Linked DNA regions of Homo sapiens. The protein of the gene in region 1 purifies or fractionates together with the protein of each later gene. This does not show direct contact. Each region holds a gene or a part of one and is shown on either strand. Other genes may lie near its edges. The genes, in order: UTP25, AAK1 and MPHOSPH10.

Region 1 (7,111 bases):
TCTAGGCTGAATTAAGGTAGACTATTTAAGGTTTCAAAAAAGTTTGGCTGGGGCAGAATAAGTTTTACAAAACCCATGCCATCCAAAATTAAGATGACATGTAGCAGCAAGAAGTATTCCAATGTCTCATAACCAGTTCTCGCAAGCAATGTGTATTCCTTACTTTAAGGAAGTGTCAAACAAATAGAAAAATCTGGAAGAATTTACTAAGTGTAATAAATTAGAGGTAAATCGTAATAAAAGAATTTATGTCTCACAAAAATATTCACAAGTGGGAGTTTTCTTCTACCAACTTCTCAGAGTCCTTCTAGCCCCCTCTTCACTTCTGAAAGATGGGATTTACCAAAATCTGGTTTACATTTAACTTTTCAGGGACACATGACCTGAAAAGAAAGATGTCAGATAATACTGACATTGCCTCATGCACTTTCTTTGTATCAGTCCTTCTTCTGTAAGTAATCAGAATTGGGTCCAAATGGCATAGAATCAAACATTATGTATCATGCCAAATACCACTTCCTGCCCAACAAAATTTCATTTTTCTCCAGTAATGAAGAGGTGGACATTCTTGTTGGACTGTAGCATCTGTGCCGCCCGCTCCACACCAACCACGGCAGCTAACCTCTGGGCATCATATTTGGAGTAGAGAACAGTGCAGGTCCACGTGGCCTCTTCTCCTCTGTTGGTGGCTCTCAGCATATTACAGATTTCACTGTAAAAGTGTGGATATGTCGGCAGTTCATAGAAAATCAGGTTCCTGATGCCTTTTATTGTATACCTGTCAGAATTGGAAAGAAAGAGCTATGTCAACTTGAGAAACAAGTTCTAGAAAAACTACCTAGGAGTTGTACAGAGGCATAGTTCATGCTTGTTGCTTCCTGCTAATGGAGAAAAACAGTGGCACAAGTAACAGAACAAAAGTTATTCTAACTTGAGGTGGCAACATATTTGAATTCTTTTTATGACAACATATTCGAATTCCTAATATTTGGCTTAAGAAAATGATAAAATAAATACACATTTCTTGATCCTACACTGGGTAGGCTGAGGTATCATGGGAAAGAATAGTAGACCAGGATTTAAAAATCTGTCACAGAAAACTTAAAAAGCAGGCACTTAAAATGGAACATTAGCCTTATTATAATCAGGCAAAAAAGAATGGAGACAAGGTCAGACCCAGTACATAAAATAAGTTGTACAGATTGTAAATACACTCCCATTAGTCTTTTCTTGCCACTCTGGATACATGTTAACTCCATGGCAGACGTCCCAAGTTCATCCATTTACAAAACCCTGCCCAAGGACCCACTAGGCATCATGAGAAAGCAATTAGTTTCAACAGCGTATGCATTTCCATCTCTTTCCCAGCTGCACAGTGCCGCCCTGTGGTGGGGGGTGGTGTACACCCAAGGGACTGACTTGCAGTATGGTTCAGTCAGGCTGACGTCAACCGTTCCCCTGTGGGATTCCATAACAAAAGATTTTATATGTTGACAAGCTTCTGATTTTTCCTGTTAAGTTTCTCTCATACACTGAAGACGTTAGACTCCCTTGGGGATTTTATTTCTTTCACAGAAGGTAAGTTTTCCTTGTCTTTTTCCCTCACAGCTCATCCTGATCTCTCTGGAGACCTTCCTTTCCCAAACCATGACTGTGATCTATTATGTGGTTCACCTTTCAACATCCTTTCCATAAAGAAGGAATTCTAACGGCTAATGAACTTGAATAAACTGTTCTACCTCACTAGTTCTCAAAACAAAAACAACACTGAGTTCTACTTCTGCTTAGAATGTATAAAACTCGAGAATATTGCTCCTATACCAATAAGAAAAAGTCAGATAATCTATTATACAAAAATGTTCCTTTTCTTGAGCCCAAAGAGCTACCATCATGAAGCAATCAGGTAACCTGAATTAGGTGGTGAGCTGGTGTATGTTTAATAATTGGTCCTCAGTGGGAGAAAGGGAGGGTGCTAATTTGAAGGATTTGTCAGTTTCAAGCTACCAATGTCATGCTGCTGACCCAGAGATGTGCAGCCAGGTCTCATGAGCCAGTGTGAGCCAGCTTCAGCTCACCATGGACTGAGTTCCAAAGAGTAGCCCTTCTGAGGAAAAACGGGACACAGGAACTACTGCACCTTAGGCAGAGCACAGGAGAAAGATGGCCTCTGCCAAAAAAGTGGGTAGTAAGAAAATAGATACACTTCTAACACATTCTTAAAGGGCAAGAATAGGCTTGCCTGACTTCAGGACCCCAGGGATCCCTGGATGCTCCTTTAGTTCACATCCACTCATGAGCTTGTTCCAGAGGCCTGCACTGGGAGCCCTGGAGAAAGCAGAAGACCCGAGGGAGACCCCACTGGTGGTAGGGACATGAAAGCCCACCTACTTCCCAGGCCCATTATCGTGAAACCCATGGTAAAAACGTGAAGCACACGGGGGAGAAGAAAGGAGCCACCCTGTCCCCCACCCCTAATCGCAGGCAGGCAAAGGCAAACCACTTGAGGGGGAGGGTGAGTAGAAGCAAAAGTTGTCTGCCCTTAAGGGAAGGGCAGTAAACCCCCACCCTTCCATTTGTCCCCCACACAAGACTTGTACCCAGTAAAAAGCATTCTGCCCCAGAGGAAGGGGTAAGAAACCTGTTCAGCCCAAGTTCCTGCACTGATACAAGCAGAGTTCGATTAGGGAAGAAGCTGTATACACTTCACCACAAAGATCCCTCACAGATAAAAGGTGGAGTCTGGCTGCCACGGAGGTAGCGGGGCAGGAACCCTGAGAAAACCTCACCCCCAAAGCTTGGAATAAAAAGGGCCTGCCAAAAATTGAGCTGGACCAGGAGAACCCCCTCCCCCCGACTTCATGCCTTGCAAGGAGAAACAAGAGGCCTCCTGTGAGGAGGGGTCTGAGTGTGGAGTGAGACCCTCCTCTGGCACACGTGTCAAGGCCTCAGTGACAGCTGAGCAATCAGGACACTGAGAAAAACCCTCCAGCACCCGAGACCCTACACCAAGCCCACTGTCTGCTGGAGGAATTTGAGGTCTGTGGTGTTGGGAAGGTATCTACAGTAACAATCAAATCCTGACTAGATTGATAGCACCCACACCAGTGGCCTACGGAAGGGGTGCGGCCGGACATAAGTATTATTTACTTCAGCCTCTACATTCCATTGAAAGTTATAGAAGACACAAAAAAGCAAGAAAAGACATCCAAACAATGAGGTATCATTTTGACTATCACATCAGTAGCAATAATTCAGTCTATGGAGCTTTGGAGAAATAGGTGAATGGAGCATAAATTACTTTGTCTATGAATTCAGGAGAAGATATGGAAAAGATGCAAAGGAGCAAATAAGTGGCAACGCATGACACATTTTTAACTGTGTACAGCCTCTGTGCTAACGAGTTTTCCTTTCAAAATCTATCCCAAGAAAATAACTAGGTAAGTATTTCATCAAAACATATGCATATGGATGTTTTGCGTATTATTATATACAACAGCAGAAAACAGAAAAAAAACCCCTATATGCCCACTAAAAGGAAGCTAGCTTAATTAACCAATGTAATACTATGTAGCCATTAAAAACAATGTGATGTTTACCTCACACGTTACTTATTAATTACATACACACACTAAGTGATTTTAGTGATTTGGCATCACCAAGAATGAGACAAAGTGACATTACGTGCCTTCTGATGAGATGAGGTAGAAAGTACGTAATATTCCCTAAGTAGAATTCTTATCAAAAGATATTTATTCTAAATCAGTCATCCCCAAACTGCTGCACATTGAAATCACCTAGCTGGTTGTTTTTTTATTTTTTTTATTAATACTTAGGTTTGGTCCCCATCCCAGACACTGCGATTTAATTGGTACTGGGATGTGACCTGGGCATTTGGATTTTTAAAAGCTTCTATTCTAACGTACGGCAAAGTTTGAGAACCACTGATCTAAATAACAAGGGAACAATTAGATAAATCCAGACTGTGAGACATACTGCAGGAAACCAGATTGGACTCTTCAAAAAGATGTCGATGTCATGAAAAAGTAAAAAAGCAAGAGAGTTATTCTGGATGAGGGTTTCTCAGTGTTAACACTGCTGACATTTTGAGACAGATAATTCTTTGTGGTTGGGGGCTGTCCTGTGAACGAAGGTGTTTCACAGCATCACTGGTCTCAACCCACTGGAACCACCAGAATAATCCTCCAGTTGTGATAACCAAAAATGTCTCCAGATATTGCCAAATGTCCCTGAGGGAGCAAAATTGTTCCCCAATTGAGAACTAAACTAGATTAAAGAAACAAAAGCAGTAAGTTAACCAAATGCTATATATGATCCTTACTGAATCCTTTTTGGCCGGAGGGGAAAGAGCTATAATGGTCATTTTGGTGACAACTAGCAAAATCTGAATATAGACTAGATATCAGATGATATTACTGTAGTAACATCAGGTAGCATGATAATGGTGCTATGGTTAGATAAAAGAATGTTTTTGTTTTTAGGAGCTACATGCTAAAATATTTAGGGGTGAAGTGTCAATGAAGACTCACGCTACTTTACTTTCAAATGGTTCAGGAAGAAAAAATAAGAGATGTGAGTGGGGATAGAGAGAAGATGGGTATGTGCAAATGTGATAAAATGAGAACAGCTGGTGGAATTTGGGGTAAAAGCATTTATAAATAAACAGATGTTTATTGTTAGTCTCTTAACAATTTTCTTTCACAATGAAATCTTTTCAAATAAAAACCTGGGGGAAGAGAGGATGTCGTAGAGCTATATATAGTAACTTAAAAATATACACAAAAATCCACAATATACAAATATACAGGCCAAAATGTTAGTCTTTGAATTTTTTTAAATGAGCACATAAAACATCTAAGACAAAGGAAAAAAAAATCCTTAAAACAAAAAAAGATCCTAATTTTAGTATTGTTTTTTAAAAAAACACGTGTGTGTGTGCACGTGTGCATGTGCACACATTTTTCACATAAAAAAGATGGAAAAAAATTACCAAAAAGAGTATTTATATCAGGGCAGTGAGATTTTTAACCTAAAATTTCCAATATCTCTACAATAACTGTGAAATACCCTCACAATCAGGAAAAACAAAACAATAAAACTGTTAAGTGTTATATTAAACACACACACATGAAAATCTGTCTCAGTCCCAATGCAACCACAATAGAGACTGAGTATCTCCTGGCAACAGAGAACATGGCCAGGGCCTCTTCCAAGGGGCAGTTAGTGGCAAGTCTCCATAGCTTGAGCACCCCTTACCCTGCCTTCCTCCTCCCTTATATATGCTTTGTTTTCAGTGACTCCTACAAACACAGCCTAATCACCCTTACAGTACCTTCCACATGTCTATTTCACGAGCCACTGTTAAAGACAAATGAGGCAACCACAATGAACTTGAAAGACTGGCTCCTTCCTACGGTCCATAAAGACCAAGTCTACTACTTCTAGAACTGGGATTCTCCTGTAGGGGAAGGGAGTAATCAGAAATTCCCAGCAGCCTTTCCAAACTCCACAAATCCCACCTCCAGTTTCTGACTTGCCTCCTGGTTGAGATCCTCCCTGCTGTGGAAACCCACTGATAACGCACTGGAAAAGAGCTGTGACCCATCACTGGGAGGGCAATCATGACCAAATGTTCATCCAATTCTAAGATTCTGCTAGTTTAATCTTCCCCACATAAAACAAATCTTCAGGTTAAAAAATTTTTGCTAACTCAAAAATGAATTCTAATCTTCCTAACATTGCCAGCTGTCATAGAGAATATAAAAACAGAGTCAGATACTACAATATAAAATACATGTACATTTTCTGGCCGGGCACGGTGGCTCATGCCTGTAACCCCAACACTTCTTGGGAGGCTGAAGTGCGCAGATCACATGAGGCCAGGAGTTCAAGACCAGCCTGGCCAACATGGCAAAACCTCGTCTACTAAAAATACAAAAATCAGCCAGGCGTGGTGATGCAATTCTGTAATCCCAGCTACTCAGGAGGCTGAGTCACGAGAATTGCTTGAACCCAAGAGGCAGACGCTGCAGCGGGCCGAGATCACACCACTGCACTCCAGCCTGAGCAACAAAGTGAGACTGTCTTAAAAAAAAAAAAAGAAAAAGAAAAAGAAAAAAAAAGTACTTATTCTAAGGTCAAATTAAAAAAAAAAAAATCACAAAGGCACTGCACACCAAAACATCCATCATCACCTTGGTGATCTCTCGAGCAAAAAATTCTATAGCTGGAAACCTTGAGATAATTAGCTGTTGCAGAACTCTAAAGCACATTATTTTCATTCATCTTCTACAAAAGAAACACCAATTAACCTGGCCCAGGGCATAAAGCAAATGGCATATGCTGAGATTTGTCCTTATCGTGACTTTGAGGGCAACATGGCTTGGTAAATAGACAGTGTAATACAGGAGACTGTCCTGCTTACAAAGGGCTCCATGCCCTGTCCTTGAAAAGCTGCTGAGATATTAAAGAGCTTAATTCCCATCCCAGCTTAATTCACAGTTGCCATAGACAATCACACTGGGAAGTTTTCCAATCCATCCACTTCACTTAAAGGGCTTGCTTTCATTTGTCAAGATGATAGAAAGCTAAGAGCTTTTAAGACCTGATGAGTGCAACTTCCCCAAATACTTTCCAACATGAATGGAAACGACAACTTACTGGAACAGAGCAAATAATGAGGGCAACAAGCAGGCATTCATTAACACTCTTTGGCCAAGCAGCCTTCTCTGGGTAGCCAAGAATGGAGCCTGGGAAACACAAATTTAATCAATCCTCAACTCTCTAAGAGGTCATGCCATGCCAGCTTTGCTATGCCTAGGCAAGCTGCTGGGACGCCTCCCTCCCCATCCTGGGAACAAGGACGTTATCTGGGGAGCACCATCCTAATCGTTTTAGCATAAACTAAAAGGTAATGCAATGCCAAAGTGCATCATCTAATGTGCTCCAAAGCTTGGGAGATTTCTGGCGTATCTGTTTAGGATTCTCTGAGAAAATGCACCCATTGTGAGTTAATAAAACAGTAAAGTCAGAACTTAAATCCACTGGACATTATTGTGAAATCAGGATGAGGTAACAGAATGTAATTTACATA
Region 2 (7,111 bases), on another chromosome or scaffold:
GGATACCTTTATTAGGAGAGCTTGAATTAACACCATGGAAGAAAGCATGAAGATGAATGAGCACACACACACACACACACACCCCATTCACACTCAAATAGGAATCTCTGGTAGACTCAAAGAGTACAGCTGATTTGCCATTTCAGAGTGAAAAGGCTGCACTGTCTCACCCTGCCCCCAAAGTCTAACCTATCCTATTTTAACTGGTATTGGTAAAAACTATTTTTGCAATTCCTTGCCGAAAGGAATCAAACGGATCCCTTTAACATGTACATATAGTTCCATTATAATGCAATGCAGGTAACACTAACTTGATTTCAAGAACATTGTCAAAACTGGGGTACACATCCTTCTATTAGAAATGGCTGGGGGACAGCTGAGAATAAATTTATGGAATTACAAATTATGGGAATACTGGACTAAGTCAAGAATGGTTACCATGTAGCCATTTTTACCAGCTATTCTAGAGTCCCTTCACACATAAACTTGACCCTGCATTCCGGGAAAAGTACCTCTGGGTTGTCACTACAGAGTAAGGCTGGGGTCCTGCCAACCTTCCTTCATCCTTTCTTCTAGTTCATAATAGGGAAGGTGAGCCATTTCATTCATTCATGTTTTGTTTGTTTTGTTTTTTTGAGACAGGGTCTGGCTCTATTGCCTGGGCTGGAGTGCAGTGACACGATCTTGGCTTAGTGCAACCTCTGCCTCCCGTGCTCAAGCCATCCTCCCACCTAAGCCTCCCAAGTAGCTGGGACTACAGGTGTGCACCACCATGCCTGGCTAATTTTTGTATTTTTTGTAGAGACAAGGTTTTGCCATGTTGCCCAGGTTGGTCTTGAACTCATGAGCTCAAGCGATCGGCCCAACACAGCCTCCCAGAGTGCTGGGATTCCAAGTGTGAGCCACCACACCCCGCCCATTTCATTCTTATTTGGTGAGATTGTCACAGACTTGGCTGAAACTTAACAAGAAACTGTTTACAGCAACAAAGGAAGCAATTAAAGTTAACATGATCATTCAACTGTGCCATTCATCATGCACTTATTGACATGCTCAAAATAGGGGAATGTTAAGTAAGGAAATGAAGTGGGAACAGGAACAAGGGAGCTAAGCCAAGAGGACTTCCAGGGACTTGAACAAAAACAATTCCCAACCACATACTACTTTTCAAGCATTTTGAAACTCTTCTTTTCCTTTAGTGATGTTTTCAGTAACAAACTTGCAAGTGTTCTTGGTGGTTAAAAAACAAAACAAAACTACAAGTATCAGCTGAGAAAGACAAAGAAAAAACTAAGAATTTAAATTAGATAATTCCATTTAAAGTTTCCAATTCCTCGTTTAGGTGGAGTTGGAACATTAGAACTCAGGGGTGGTTTGGATATTAACAAGGTACTCCTGCCTCCTCAGAAGCTACAGTCTTTTCTGCAGCTCTCTTATGTACCTCTCATCAAAATAATTTCAGTCCCACATTTCTCGGATAAAACCACATCTGTGGTTTTATCCAGCAACCATTTCACAGTCGACTGGCACGTGTTCTCCAATTTCAGTTCCAAACACACAACACAGAATCACACTTTTCTTTATTAAAGGGACCCAAGTGATTTTTAAGCTGTATTCTTCCTGCTAGAGAATGAATTGAGTAGCATCCTTCTCTAATTTCCTACAATAAAATTTCCTATGTGATATACTGCATATATATTATATCTGATATATGTTTTGATTATTTTTCTTTATGGAAGCAAATACAGAATTTCCTTGTCAGATCACTCTGATGATTATAATCTGCTACTTTGATTATGCATCAGTGAAATGTCCACCAAGCAGTTGAAAACACTGATGTACATGTATTCTAAAACTTACTAAATAATGGGCCAGTAAGATACCAGTATCTTTCTAGAACGTTTAGAAAGAGATCTTAGTTGCCAGAGAAAACTCAGATACAACATGAGCCTCTAAACACATACACTCTAGTCTACAAATATGAGACTTTTCAACTCAACAATAAGTGGGCCGAAAACAATATAGGGCGTATGACCTAGACTCCCTGGGTGCTGCTCAGCAGCTGCTTCAGCATCAAATTGTGTTCATCCCATTTTCTAATCTAACCAAGCACTTGGAACTAAAGGGCTGTATGTGAGCCCAAGAAACTGATATATTAAATATTTTTCACCACATATGACATCTTTCATTCAGTACTGCCTGTTAGTCAATTACTGTGGATTCTTTCAGGGTTCATCAATGCATGTGTGGCTCGATGGTTTAGGAATAAATATATTCTGGCTCAATGCTTTCCACTGAAATGAAAGGTCACAACTTCTATGTTCCCTATCAAATGTGTAAAGCAAAAACACAACAAACGAAAACAAGAAAGTAGAGTTGTTTGTTGATTATATACAGTCATGTGCTGCATAAAAACGATTCCATCAATGATGGACCACATATACCATGATGGTCCCATAAGATTATACCATATTTTTACTGTACCTTTTCTATGTCTAAAATGTTTGGATACAGAAATACTTACCATTGTGTTACAACTGCCTACAGTATTCAGTACAGTAACATGCTGTACAGGTTTGTAGCCCAGGAGCAACAGGCTGGACCATATAGCCTAGGTAGGTAGTAGGCCGTGCCATCTAGGTTTGTGTTAAGTACACTCTGTGATGTTCACACAATGACAAAATCACCTAAGGATGCATTTCTCTGAATGTCTCCCTCATCATTAAGTGGGGCATGACTGTATTTTTTTTTCTCTTTAAGGAAATAAGACCCTACTGTAATACAAGTCGGCAGAATCTAACTGTTACTAATAATTAATGTAATCCACAAGTCAAAGTTTTTTCATGCATCACCAAAAAAAAAAAAAAAAGTAATTTGCATGTGTTTGCATCCGTTTCTGTATTCAAAGAAGGTATGTAGAGTCTCCACCCATCATGTCTCCAGTGACAATTTTTTTTTTTTTTTTGAGGCGGAGTTTTGCTCTTCTCGCCCAGGCTGGAGTGCAATGACACAATCTTGGCTCACTGCAAAGTCTGCCTCCCTGGGTCAAGCAATTCTGCCTCAGCCTCCCTAGTAACTGGGACTACAGGTGCGTGCCATCACGCCCAGCTACTTTTTGTATTTTTGGTAGAGACAGGGTTTCACCATGTTGGCCAGGCTGGTCTCAAACTCCTACCCTCAAGTGATCCACCCACCTCGGCCTCCCAAAGTGCTGGGATTACAAGCGTGAGCCACCGCGCCTGGCCTCCAGTGAAAAATTTAAAAAGGATACAAGCTCATACTTGACGAAGTATTCAACTATGTAGTAAAATCACCATGATTTTATCCTGATTTGCACCTTGAGAATTAAAATAGTCACTTGATTAGAAGGGAATTATCAAATAACCAAAGGAAAAACATTTTGCTGGGCTGTTACAGAGATAATCCTGAATATTTGGAAAGGGGAATTAGAATGATCTCTTACTTTAAGAATTTCTGAACCAAACACCGCATGTTCTCACTCATAGGTGGGAATTGAACAAAGAGAACACATGGACACAGTAAGGGGAACATCACACTCTGGGGACTGTTGTGGGGTGGGGGGAGGGGGGCGGGATAGCATTAGGAGATATACCTAATGCTAAATGACGAGTTAGTGGGTGCAGCACACGAGCATGGCACATGTATACATATGTAACTAACCTGCACATTGTGCACATGTACCCTAAAACTTAAAGTATAATAATAATTTAAAAAAAAAAAAAGAATTTCTGGGCCAGGTGCGGTGGCTCACGCCTGTAATCCTAGCACTTTGGGAAGCCAAGGTGGGTGGATCACAAGGTCAAGAGTTCAAGACCAACCTGGCCAACATGGTGAAACCCCATCTCTACTAAGAATACAAAAATTAGCCAGGCGCGGTGGTGTGTGCCTATAATCCCAGCTACTCGGGAGGCTGAGGCAGAATCGCTTGAACTCGGAAAATGGAGGTTGCAGTGAGCCGAGATCACACCACTGCACTCCCGCCTGAGCGACAGAGCAAGACGCCGTCTTGAAAAAAAAAAAAAAAATTTCTGAGTTGGGGTGAGAAATCTCCCTGAGTATTTCTAGGCTCTTCGCTCATGTTTTTGAGGGCTTCACTTGATAATGACCATGGGAAGAATCTGGGGTGCAAAGTTCCACGTGCATTAGCCGAAATTATTCATTCAACTAGAAAGACAATTTTGCATCCACTAATACATAAAAATCAGAAAGGAGAATTGGGAAAAAGCATATTCTTAGAATAACATTTAGCATCCACCAAAGTGAAGGACATAGGTTTCTGGCACAGTTGAAACCTTAGTTGGAAAACCAAACCTTGGCACAGTGCCAATTATTTATCTTTTGATCAGGACATTTGAAATAGGCAGAGACCACCAAAAAAGGACAAAGTATTGAAAAGTAGCTGCTCATTTTTTACTGCCAATATTCCTGAACTTTAAAGAATATCACACCTAATCAACCGCAATAGAATTGGGCATTCAGACTTGATTCTTAGATGAATTTCCAATAATTTTTAAATCATTGATCTGGCTTGGTAAATAGCTCTCCAAACTTCTACAGCTAATGGAAAAATCACTTAACCTTTACTAGAAGTAACAGAAAGCATTAAAGTTGAAACCTAATGCAGCAGTTCTTTCCAGTGAGTTGAACTGCCTTAGCAGAAATCTTCCCATTGAGATACAGGCTTTATTTTTATTATTATATTTTTGGAGACAGTGTCTCACTCTGTCACCCAGGCTGGACTCACAACTCACTGCAGCCTCAAACTCCTGGGCTCAAGTGATCCTTCCAGCTCAGCCTCCTGAGTAGCTACAGGCATATGTCACCATACCCAGCTAATTTTTTTCATTATTTTATTTAATTTTATTTTTTAGACTCGCTCTGTCGCCCAGGCCAGAGTGCAGTGGCGCAATCTCTGCTCACTGCAACCTCTGCCTCCCGGGTTCAAGCGATTCTCCTGCCTCAGCCTCCTGAGTAGCTGGGACTACAGGTGTGCACCACCACGTCCAGCTAATTTTTTGTATTTTTAGTAGAGATGGGGTTTCACCATGTTGGCCAGGCTGGTCTCAAACTCCTGACCTTGTGATCTGCCCACCTTGGCCTCCCAAAGTGCTGGGATTACAGGTGTGAGCCACCATGCCCAGCCTATTTTTTTATTTATTTTTTGAAGGGACAGGGTCTCGCTGTGTTGCCAGAGTTGGTCTTGAACTTCCTGGGCTCAACTGATCCTCCTGCCTCAGCCTTCCAAAATGCTGGTATTACAGGTGTGTGGCACTGCACCTGGCCAGCTTTATTTTAAGGCACTAATAATAAAGGGTATGAAAAAAGCTAGGAATAAGTCAGATCTTTCCAGAAATAAAAGACAATTTTAAAAAACATCAGTTAACCTGTCTGGCCTATTTCAACATCTAAAGAGGATAGAGAATGTAAAAGTTTTCATGCCTACCTGATTCAGCTCTTTTCCATTCTCCCAAACACTTATTTCCATGTCTCAGATTTACATTTCCTCAAAAGGCAGTAGAGATTTGGAAACAACAACAACAACAACAACAACAACAACAAAACCACCCCAAAACAAGCAAGCCTAGTTTGTAGCCTAGTCTCATGATTAATGAATTCCCTAATGCTGGCATTTAGCCCACATACTGAGAGGCCGGAACTGTAACAAGGTGCTCTTTTCTAGTGTTGTAAGGGGAAAATGTATAAGGAAAATTAATTTTTCATAATCAGGTAAATATAATTTGTTAATAGCAAAACAAGAAATTCCGGAGAGAAAAAAGATTTACTCTGAAACACCAGTTCCAGCAGGATTTCCCTACACCTTCCAACGTATTCTACTTTGCCATGAGAAAAAAACTAAATAAATAAAATGGGGTTCAAGTCAGTTAGGCGAGCAAACACCAAAAAACGAGTGATTTCATTGTGGAGGTAGGCATGATGGGGCAGGATTTCCCTCAAGTGGAAATGCTTCCTGTGCACACACACGTATACATGCACACACAAACCTGTACACTCACACTAATTTCAAAAGCATGGATGTGGGGAAAGCCCTGCCAGCATGACTAGACATGAGGAGTTAGCCCATCTGCCTGTATCTCTACACAGGCTCTGACGTACATTCCACACCCATAGACAGTCATGCACGAGAGCCAGCCTGGCTTGCACACAGACTGAGAATCAGATCTGGAGACTCCTAGAGCTGCTGCTTCTACAGGAATTATTAGTAACTGCAGGATTATACTTCCTGTTGATGTGCAGGGTTTTTATCTTGCTCTTCTTTCCAGACATCTCCCCTTTTCAAGAGTACTAAATCTTGATTTAGTGGAGGGACTAATCTTGATTCTTCGATGGGCATGACTTAGAACAGGAGCTACAGGAATTAAAACTAGCAACAATAGGGCCCCTTTGGGATTGGGGTGAAGAAGTATTTCAGGATTTAAACAGTTTCTGTGGGTGGGGCGGGGGGAAAGCAGAGTTCTTGGTGGAAGTGGATGACCTCTGTGAAGGAGATGAAAATGCCTCCAAGTCCAGAAATCAATATAAACAAACAAACAAACAAACAAAAATGAACATAACTTAAAGGGGCTTCAACTAAATATCACTGCAACTGAGTTTGTTGACTCAAGAAATTCTGCTCTGACGCAGGGAATTGAAATATAAGAACTGATAATATTTCTTCTTCAGAAGGCTAAGCTGGGAGTGCCATGGCGGGTATTGAGGGTGGGATAGAGACAAGAGGCTTGAGGCTCAGGTTTTGCTCCTAGGGTTTCTTGCCTGATTTTGAAGGGAAGGGTGCTAGAGCAAATGGATCAGCAGCTGGCAGCTCCGTAGTCCTGGAGGAAAGGGATGTGATAGAAACAGACCCAGCTATCGACTGCTTGTTGGTTTGTGAAACAATTTTGTAGGCAGCAATGGGCTGGGCTTCTGGACTTGGCTCGTCTTCTGGGCTATAGTGACGGGAATACTTGGATAAGGACTGGGGGCGGAATGGTTTGCCAGCCATGGGGCCTGAGACAGCTTCTTTCTGGAGCTGAGGTCCTTTGTTTCTGTCATTAGAATGACCCCCAGATTCCAGGCAGGATCCCCTGGGAGA
Region 3 (7,111 bases), on another chromosome or scaffold:
GGGACTGTTTGGAAGTAAAAAACTTAAGGTAAAGTTTTGAGAGAAGAGAGAGCACTTTCCTCCTCAAATTAGCTTTTCTTCTGTTTTTCTAGGAGAGATTTAATTGTAGTTAGAAGATTTAGTGATAAGAAATATTGTGCTCTATCTTATCAGTTATAAATGAATCTGTACTTCCATTCAATTTATGTTCCAGTTGGTCTTATAATTTTGTGGTAGTGTTATTAGTTGCCATTTTCACCTAATAATTATTTAGTTATTAGTTTGGTTATTAGTTATTAGCTTGTAGTGTTATTAAGTCAGAAAGTAATATATACATACAATATACATGCAAATCTATATGCATGTGTTAATATATTTTTCTATCCCTAATTAATAGTTTTTAATATCTTTTTATTTTAGTCAGGTAAAAGTTCCAGAAATCTGAAATACAAAGATTTTTTTGATCCAGTTGAAAGTGATGAAGACATAACAAATGTTCATGATGATGAGCTGGATTCAAACAAAGAAGATGATGAAATTGCTGAAGAAGAAGCAGAAGAACTAAGTATTTCGGAAACGTGAGTATTTTGAACCATCCTTTACATTGTAAGCTGGAATTGCCCAATCATGTGTGTGTACTCGTAGTTATCAAATGTGTTTGTCTTAGCAAGTTCTATTCTCTAATATCAGATATTCTCAAGATAGCCAGAGGAAAGTCTCTGACTGTAAAGGGACATTAGAGATCACTTAATGAAGAAAAATATCTCTGGTAGTAGCAATCAAACCTTCCTTACCAGGAACTTTGATTTGGTTTTGTGTCAATAAAATCCTGTTATTTTTGTGAGATAAGAGATTTGTATTATAGATTGATGAATAATTTATTTTCTATATGTTGGACACTTTTTTTTCTGTTTCTTACATAGCGTTTTACCTAAATAATACCTTTTGTTCCTTAATAACTGAATGATTTTGGAAGTTCTGAGTATTTGGTTGCATTAGGTATATAAAATAAGAACTTTATTAAGGGAAAATTTGTTTCCTTTTGTTTTTCTAATGGAAAGTAGTATATTTCTTTTTATAAGAGTTTTGGTATTGTAGGGATGAAGATGATGACCTTCAAGAAAATGAAGACAATAAACAACATAAAGAAAGCTTGAAAAGAGTGACCTTTGCTTTACCAGATGATGCGGAAACTGAAGATACAGGTGTTTTAAATGTAAAGAAAAATTCTGATGAAGTTAAATCCTCCTTTGAAAAAAGACAGGAAAAGGTAATTAGTAATTTAAGGAATTTTTAATATACTTGATATTAACCATCCTTTGAAAACTATTAACCATCCTTTGAAAACAAATATCTTGGCCAGGTGCAGTGGCTCACGCCTGTAATCCTAACACTTTGGTAGTCCAAAGCAAGAGGATCGCTTGAGCTCAGGAGTTCAGAACCAGCCTAGGCAACATAGTGAGACCTTGTCTCTACCAAAAATACAAAAATTAGCTGGGCATGGTGATGTGTGCCTGTAGTCCAGCTACTCTGGTGTCTGAGGTGGGAGGATCACTTGAGCCTAGGAGGTTGATGCTGCGGTGAGCTAAGATTGCATCACTGCTCTCTAGCCTGGGCGGCAAGCAAGACCTTGTCTTAAAACAAAAAACCAAAAATCTTGCCATATGGAAAGCATCTGATTTGCAAAATCAGTGCCTGCATTTCAGTTTGGGGCCTGTGAGTAAAATAGTTGCTTCTGCTGGGCGTGGTGGCTCATGCCTGTAATCCCAGCACTTTTCGGGGCTGAGGCAGGTGGATCACTTCAGGTCAGGAGTTCGAGACCAGCCTGGCTAACATGGTAAAACCCCATCTCTACTAAAAAAAAAAAAAAGTAGCCAGGTGTGGTGGCGGGCACCTGTAATCCCAGCTAATCGGGAGGCTGAGGCAGGAGAATCCCTTGAACCCAGGAGGCGGAGGTTGCAGTGAGCCGAGATGGTGTCACTGGACTCCAGCCTGGGCGACAGAGTGTGACTCTGTCTCAAAAATAAAAAAATTTTTAAAGATAATTGTTTTTTTCTCTGTCCCTAATATCTTTATATGTATAGCATGTCTCTCCTGATAAAGCTGTCCTGTGAGCATCTTAACTGTTTCCACTGTTTTGGAGGATACCACATATGTCTTTTCTTTTTCTTTTTCTTTTTTTTTTTTTTTTTGAGACAGAGTTTCACTCTTGTCACCCAGGCTGGAGTGCAGTGGCGTGATCTTAGCTCACTGCAACCTCCACCTCCCAGGTTCAATCAATTTTCCTGCCTCAGCCTCCTGAGTAGTTGGGATTACAGATGCCCGCCACCACGCCCAACTAATTTTTTTGTATTTTTAGTAGAGACGGGGTTTCACCATGTTGGCCAGGCTGGTCTGAAGCTCCTGACCTCAGGTGATCCACCCACCTTGGCCTCCCAAAGTGCTGGGATTACAGGCGTGAGCCACTGCGCCCAGCGGATACCACCTATGTCTTTAAGGTGCTCCACAGATTTTTGTGAGTGCCAAATAGCCAGAATTTTAATTTATACCATCACAAACATATCTTTCAAAGTTGGTAAAAATTGTTTCTTTGTGTCATGATTTCAGACAAGTGAAATTTCATTAAATTTTTGTAGATGTAGTCTGGCTCTAATAATTTGGCTCTATCATTTATTTACCTTAAAATTTTTATCACAATAAAAATGAGAATAGGGCCAGGCACAGTGGCTCACACCTGCACTTTGGGAGGCTGAGGAGGGAGGATTGTTTGGAGCCCAGGAATTCGAGACCAACCTGGGCAACAGGGCAAAAGCCCGTCTCCACTAAAGATTAAAAAAGTTAGCTGGGAATGGTAGTGTGTGCCTATAGTCTTTGCTACTCGAGAGGCTGATGGGGGAGGATCTCTTGAGTCCAGGAGTTCAAGGCTGCAGTGAGCTATGATTGCACCACAGCACTCTAGCCTGGGCAACAGAGCTAGAGACTGTCTGAAAAAATTAAAAAAAAAAAGAGAACAGGCAGAGAATGAAAGATACCAAGAATATCAAAAGAATTGTTTTTAAAATCTAAGAATCTGAATTAAATCCATGGTTGTCAGATTGTCCCCAGAAGATAGAGAAATTCTAAGGGAAAAAAAGCACCATTATAAAATATCAATGAGTTAGTATCCTTCCACCCCACTCCTCCCGCCCTTCCCCAACAAATAAAGAAAGAAAGGTTTGGTTTTATTGTGAAATTATATCAGACCTTCAAGTTAAGTTTCAATAAATCAAAAATAATTTATTTCAATTTCCACATATAAAGAATAAAGTAGAACTTTCAACCTTTTTTTTTTTTTTTTTGAAACTGTTAGGTCATGAAAACCCAAACCTGACAGAGGTAGCATTAAAACACACACACACACACACACACACACACACACACACACACACACACAGAGCACAGTCTCATTCATGAACAGTGATGCAAAAATCCTACAGCACAGTGGAAAAATGATGCCACACAACTGCATGAACCTTATTCTCTTGAATCAGTATTAGAAAATCTAGTATGATTCCTGACTGCAAGACATTAAGGAGAAAAAACATATAGTCACCTCCATATATGTCAGAAAGACATTTGATAAAATTCAATATTCATTTCTAATTTTTTTTTTCACTCCTAGCGGAATATAAATACATTTAAGCCAAAAACTGCCATCATGCATGATGCATGCATCATTCTAGAAACATCCCTTTAAGATCAGGAATAAGACAAGATGTCCAGTATTACAATTACCACTGTTGATTAACATTCTTTTAGACGCATAGGCCAGTGTAACTACAAAAGATAAAGATAAGAGATGAGGAAAACTGCCAGGTGCGGTGGCTCATGCCTGTAATCCCAACACTTTGGGAGACCAAGGCAGGAGGATTGCTTGAGCTCAGGAGTTCGAGACCAGCCTGGGCAACATGGTAAGACCTCGTCTCTACAAAAAATACAAAAATTAGTCAGGCGTGGTTGCACGCGCCTGTGGTCCCAGTTATTTGGGAGTCCAAGGTAAGAGGATTGCTTGAGCCTAGGAGGTGGAGGTTGCAGTGAGCTGAGATCACGCAACTGCTCTCCAGCCTAGGCAACTGAGCGAGACTGTCTCAAAAAAAAAAAAAAAAAAAAAAGATTAGGAATACTGCAGATGTATTTATATTCCACTAAGAGTGAAAAATGAAAGTGTTGGTATTTGGAGAGGAAACCGAATGGATAAACTGAATTGATATTAGGAAAATAAGAGAATTCTGTAAGGTAGCTGAAAAGGCTGGCATTTTATACACTGAAGTCATCATTGTTGTCTTTTAAAAGTTAGAGATAATGGCCAGGCATGGTGGCTCACGCCTGTAATCCCAGCACTTGGTGAAACCCCGTCTCTACTAAAAAATACAAAAATTAGCCGGGCGTGGTGGCACACGCCTGTAATTCCAGCTACTCGGGAGGCTGAGGCAGGAGAATTGCTCAGGAGACGGAGGTTGCAGTGAGCTGAGATCACACCACTGCACTCCAGCCTAGGCGACAGAGCGAGACTCTGCTTCAAAAAAATTTTAAAAAAAGAAGTTAGAGTAAGAATTTGAGTTTGGAGTCAAAAGGGTCAGACTCCATCAGATACTAATATTCTAATCAAAGAATTACTTGACTTGCGAATAGATAGATCACTTGAATAGAATAGAGCCCAGAAACAAACTCAAAAGCTTCTGGGGGCGTTTAGTATATTATAAACATGGCATTTTAAATTAATCAGGAAAAGAAATTGTTTGCAGCTCACCCCACCATAGGCAGCAGAAATAGGAAGTCATCGACAGAATAAAAAGATGGCAAGAACAGAATCGTAGAACAGTACGTTTCTTGCTTTCCCACTTTTTAAATTATTTTTTGCTTTTACACAAATATAAGATTTTATTTTCTAAATGTATACTAGTTATTTTATCTCTTTCTTAGATGAATGAAAAAATTGCATCTTTAGAAAAAGAGTTGTTAGAAAAAAAGCCGTGGCAGCTTCAGGGGGAAGTGACAGCACAGAAGAGGCCAGAGAACAGCCTCCTGGAGGAGACCCTACACTTTGACCATGCTGTCCGGATGGGTATGGTGCCCTCTTCTGTAGTTTTCATGTCTGTGCTTTTTCCATGGTTCCATTTCATACAAAGATTTGGGGTGGTGTTTCTTTTCCCTCAACTTTTTATTTTAAAAACTTGTAAACACATGGCTTGGCATGGTAGCTCACACCTGTAATCCCGGCACTTTGGGAGGCCGAGGCAGACGGATCACCTGAGGTCAGGAGTTTGAGACCAGCCTGGCCAACATGGTGAAACCCCGTCTCTACTAAAAATACAAAAATCAGCCAGATACGGTGGCAGATTTCAGAATCCCATCTACTCGGAAGGCTGAGGCAGGAGAATTGCTTGAACCCAGAAAGGGGAGGTTGCAGTGAGCCAAGGTTGTGCCAGTGTGCTCCAGCGTGGGCAGCCTGGGCAACAGAGCGACACTCTGTCAAAAAAGAAAAAATCAACTTATAAACACAGAAGAGTTGAAAAAATACTACAGTGAACACCTATATGCTATTCAATTGGATTCACCAGTTACCATTTTGTTATATTTGCTTTCTCTCCCTAGCATATGTAAGATTGTATATGTGCCCTTTTTTTAAGTAAGTTGCCAATCTCATGGCACTTCACTTTTAAGTACTTTTGCAGATATCGTCTAAGAACTAGGACATTCTCCTATGTAATCACAGTACCATTAATCCACCCAAAAAATTTAACAATACGCTAATGATACCTAATGTATAGTTTGTAATCAGCTTTCTTGTAGTAATCTGTTTTGAAGGCTTGCATCCTGTCATGGTCCACTGATTAAATTTTGAACTTCAACCTGAAACTGTGGTCATCTCATTGACTTCTTTCTTGTACCCATTACATCAAAATGAGTTTTCATTTTATTTCAATGGAAGAGAGAATGGAAAAGAGGGGAAGAGTCCCTGGGTACCTTGGGTAAAGTATTAGCACTTACTACCATATGTATCCTAGTTTTGTGGTTTTCAAACTTCAGGGAGCATCACAAGGCTTGTTAAAGCACAGATAGCTGTCCCTCTTCCCCACTTTCTGATTCAGGAAGTATGGGGGTGGCCCAGGAATTTGCATTTCTAACAAGTTCCCACGTGTTGCTGATGCTGTGGGTCCAAGGACTGCACTGAATCAATGGTCTAGTGGATATCTACCTAATGAATAAACGTTGTATATCCTTTAGCACCTGTGATTACAGAGGAAACCACCCTTCAACTGGAAGATATCATTAAACAGAGGATAAGAGATCAGGTCAGTAAGAATTAAATTTAACTTAATCAAAATGTCACCAAGATTTTTAGAAATAATGTGAGAGTACTTTGAGAGTAGGACTATTGCTTTTTATTTTCACTTAGTGTTCACAAACCTTAAATCTAGGCTACCTAGTCAGCTTTTGTTGTGTGAGGTACTGCTCTTCAGTAGTATCCAGGAAAGACGAGTATTGTGCCTGAGAGGAGCAAGAAGCCATTATCCTTTCTCGTGAGTCTTGCTGACCTTTTGGGCGGTGCTCAGTGAAGCTGGTGGCTGACCTGTGATGGTTGCACCCAGAACCCTTGGCTTAGGCACAGTATCTGGTGTGGTAAATTATTCAGTATATATGTCCTAGTCTTTTTTCTGTTACTTATAACAGAATATCTGAAGCTGGGTGACTTAAAAGGAATACAGTTATGGAGGCTGAGAAGTCCAAGGTCGAGGGGCCTTCTTACCAGTGGGGATTCCGCAGAGTCCCAAGGTGGTGCAGGGCATCACATGGTGAAAGGGCTGAGCATGCTAAGATGCTGGCTCAGGTGTCTCTTGCTCTTCTTAAGAGCCACCATTCCCCCACTGATGATAACCCATTAATCCATAAATGCAACTGCCATTCATGAGGGCAAAACCCTGGTGATCCAGTCACGTCCTAGAAGGCCCCACATCTGAGTGTTGCCACATCAGGGATTAAGTTTCCACATGAGTTTTGGAGGGGACATTCAAACCCTAGCATTGTGGTAGTTCTACAATTTTAAAACCATTTCTCAATGGTGTATTTTTTTCAAATGTTAAAAACCTAG

The links.
Region 2: the proteins of UTP25 (region 1) and AAK1 purify together in Homo sapiens (affinity purification with mass spectrometry; 2 studies listed by BioGRID and IntAct, with this or other methods). This does not show direct contact.
Region 3: the proteins of UTP25 (region 1) and MPHOSPH10 purify together in Homo sapiens (affinity purification with mass spectrometry; 2 studies listed by BioGRID and IntAct, with this or other methods). This does not show direct contact.

The regions. Positions count from the first base shown.
Region 1 is NC_000001.11:209,844,871-209,851,981, reverse strand, and holds part of UTP25 (U3 small nucleolar RNA-associated protein 25 homolog), read right to left. Parts: intron 779-7,111; coding exon 535-778; 3' UTR 1-534. UniProt on the Homo sapiens protein: Component of the ribosomal small subunit processome for the biogenesis of ribosomes, functions in pre-ribosomal RNA (pre-rRNA) processing. Essential for embryonic development in part through the regulation of p53 pathway.
Region 2 is NC_000002.12:69,458,647-69,465,757, forward strand, and holds part of AAK1 (AP2-associated protein kinase 1), read right to left. Parts: coding exon of another isoform or gene 6,779-7,111; 3' UTR 3,066-6,778; coding exon of another isoform or gene 3,021-3,065; 3' UTR 1-3,020.
Region 3 is NC_000002.12:71,133,549-71,140,659, forward strand, and holds part of MPHOSPH10 (U3 small nucleolar ribonucleoprotein protein MPP10), read left to right. Parts: coding exon 1-28; intron 29-399; coding exon 400-557; intron 558-1,077; coding exon 1,078-1,249; intron 1,250-4,941; coding exon 4,942-5,083; intron 5,084-6,246; coding exon 6,247-6,314; intron 6,315-7,111. UniProt on the Homo sapiens protein: Component of the 60-80S U3 small nucleolar ribonucleoprotein (U3 snoRNP). Required for the early cleavages during pre-18S ribosomal RNA processing. Part of the small subunit (SSU) processome, first precursor of the small eukaryotic ribosomal subunit.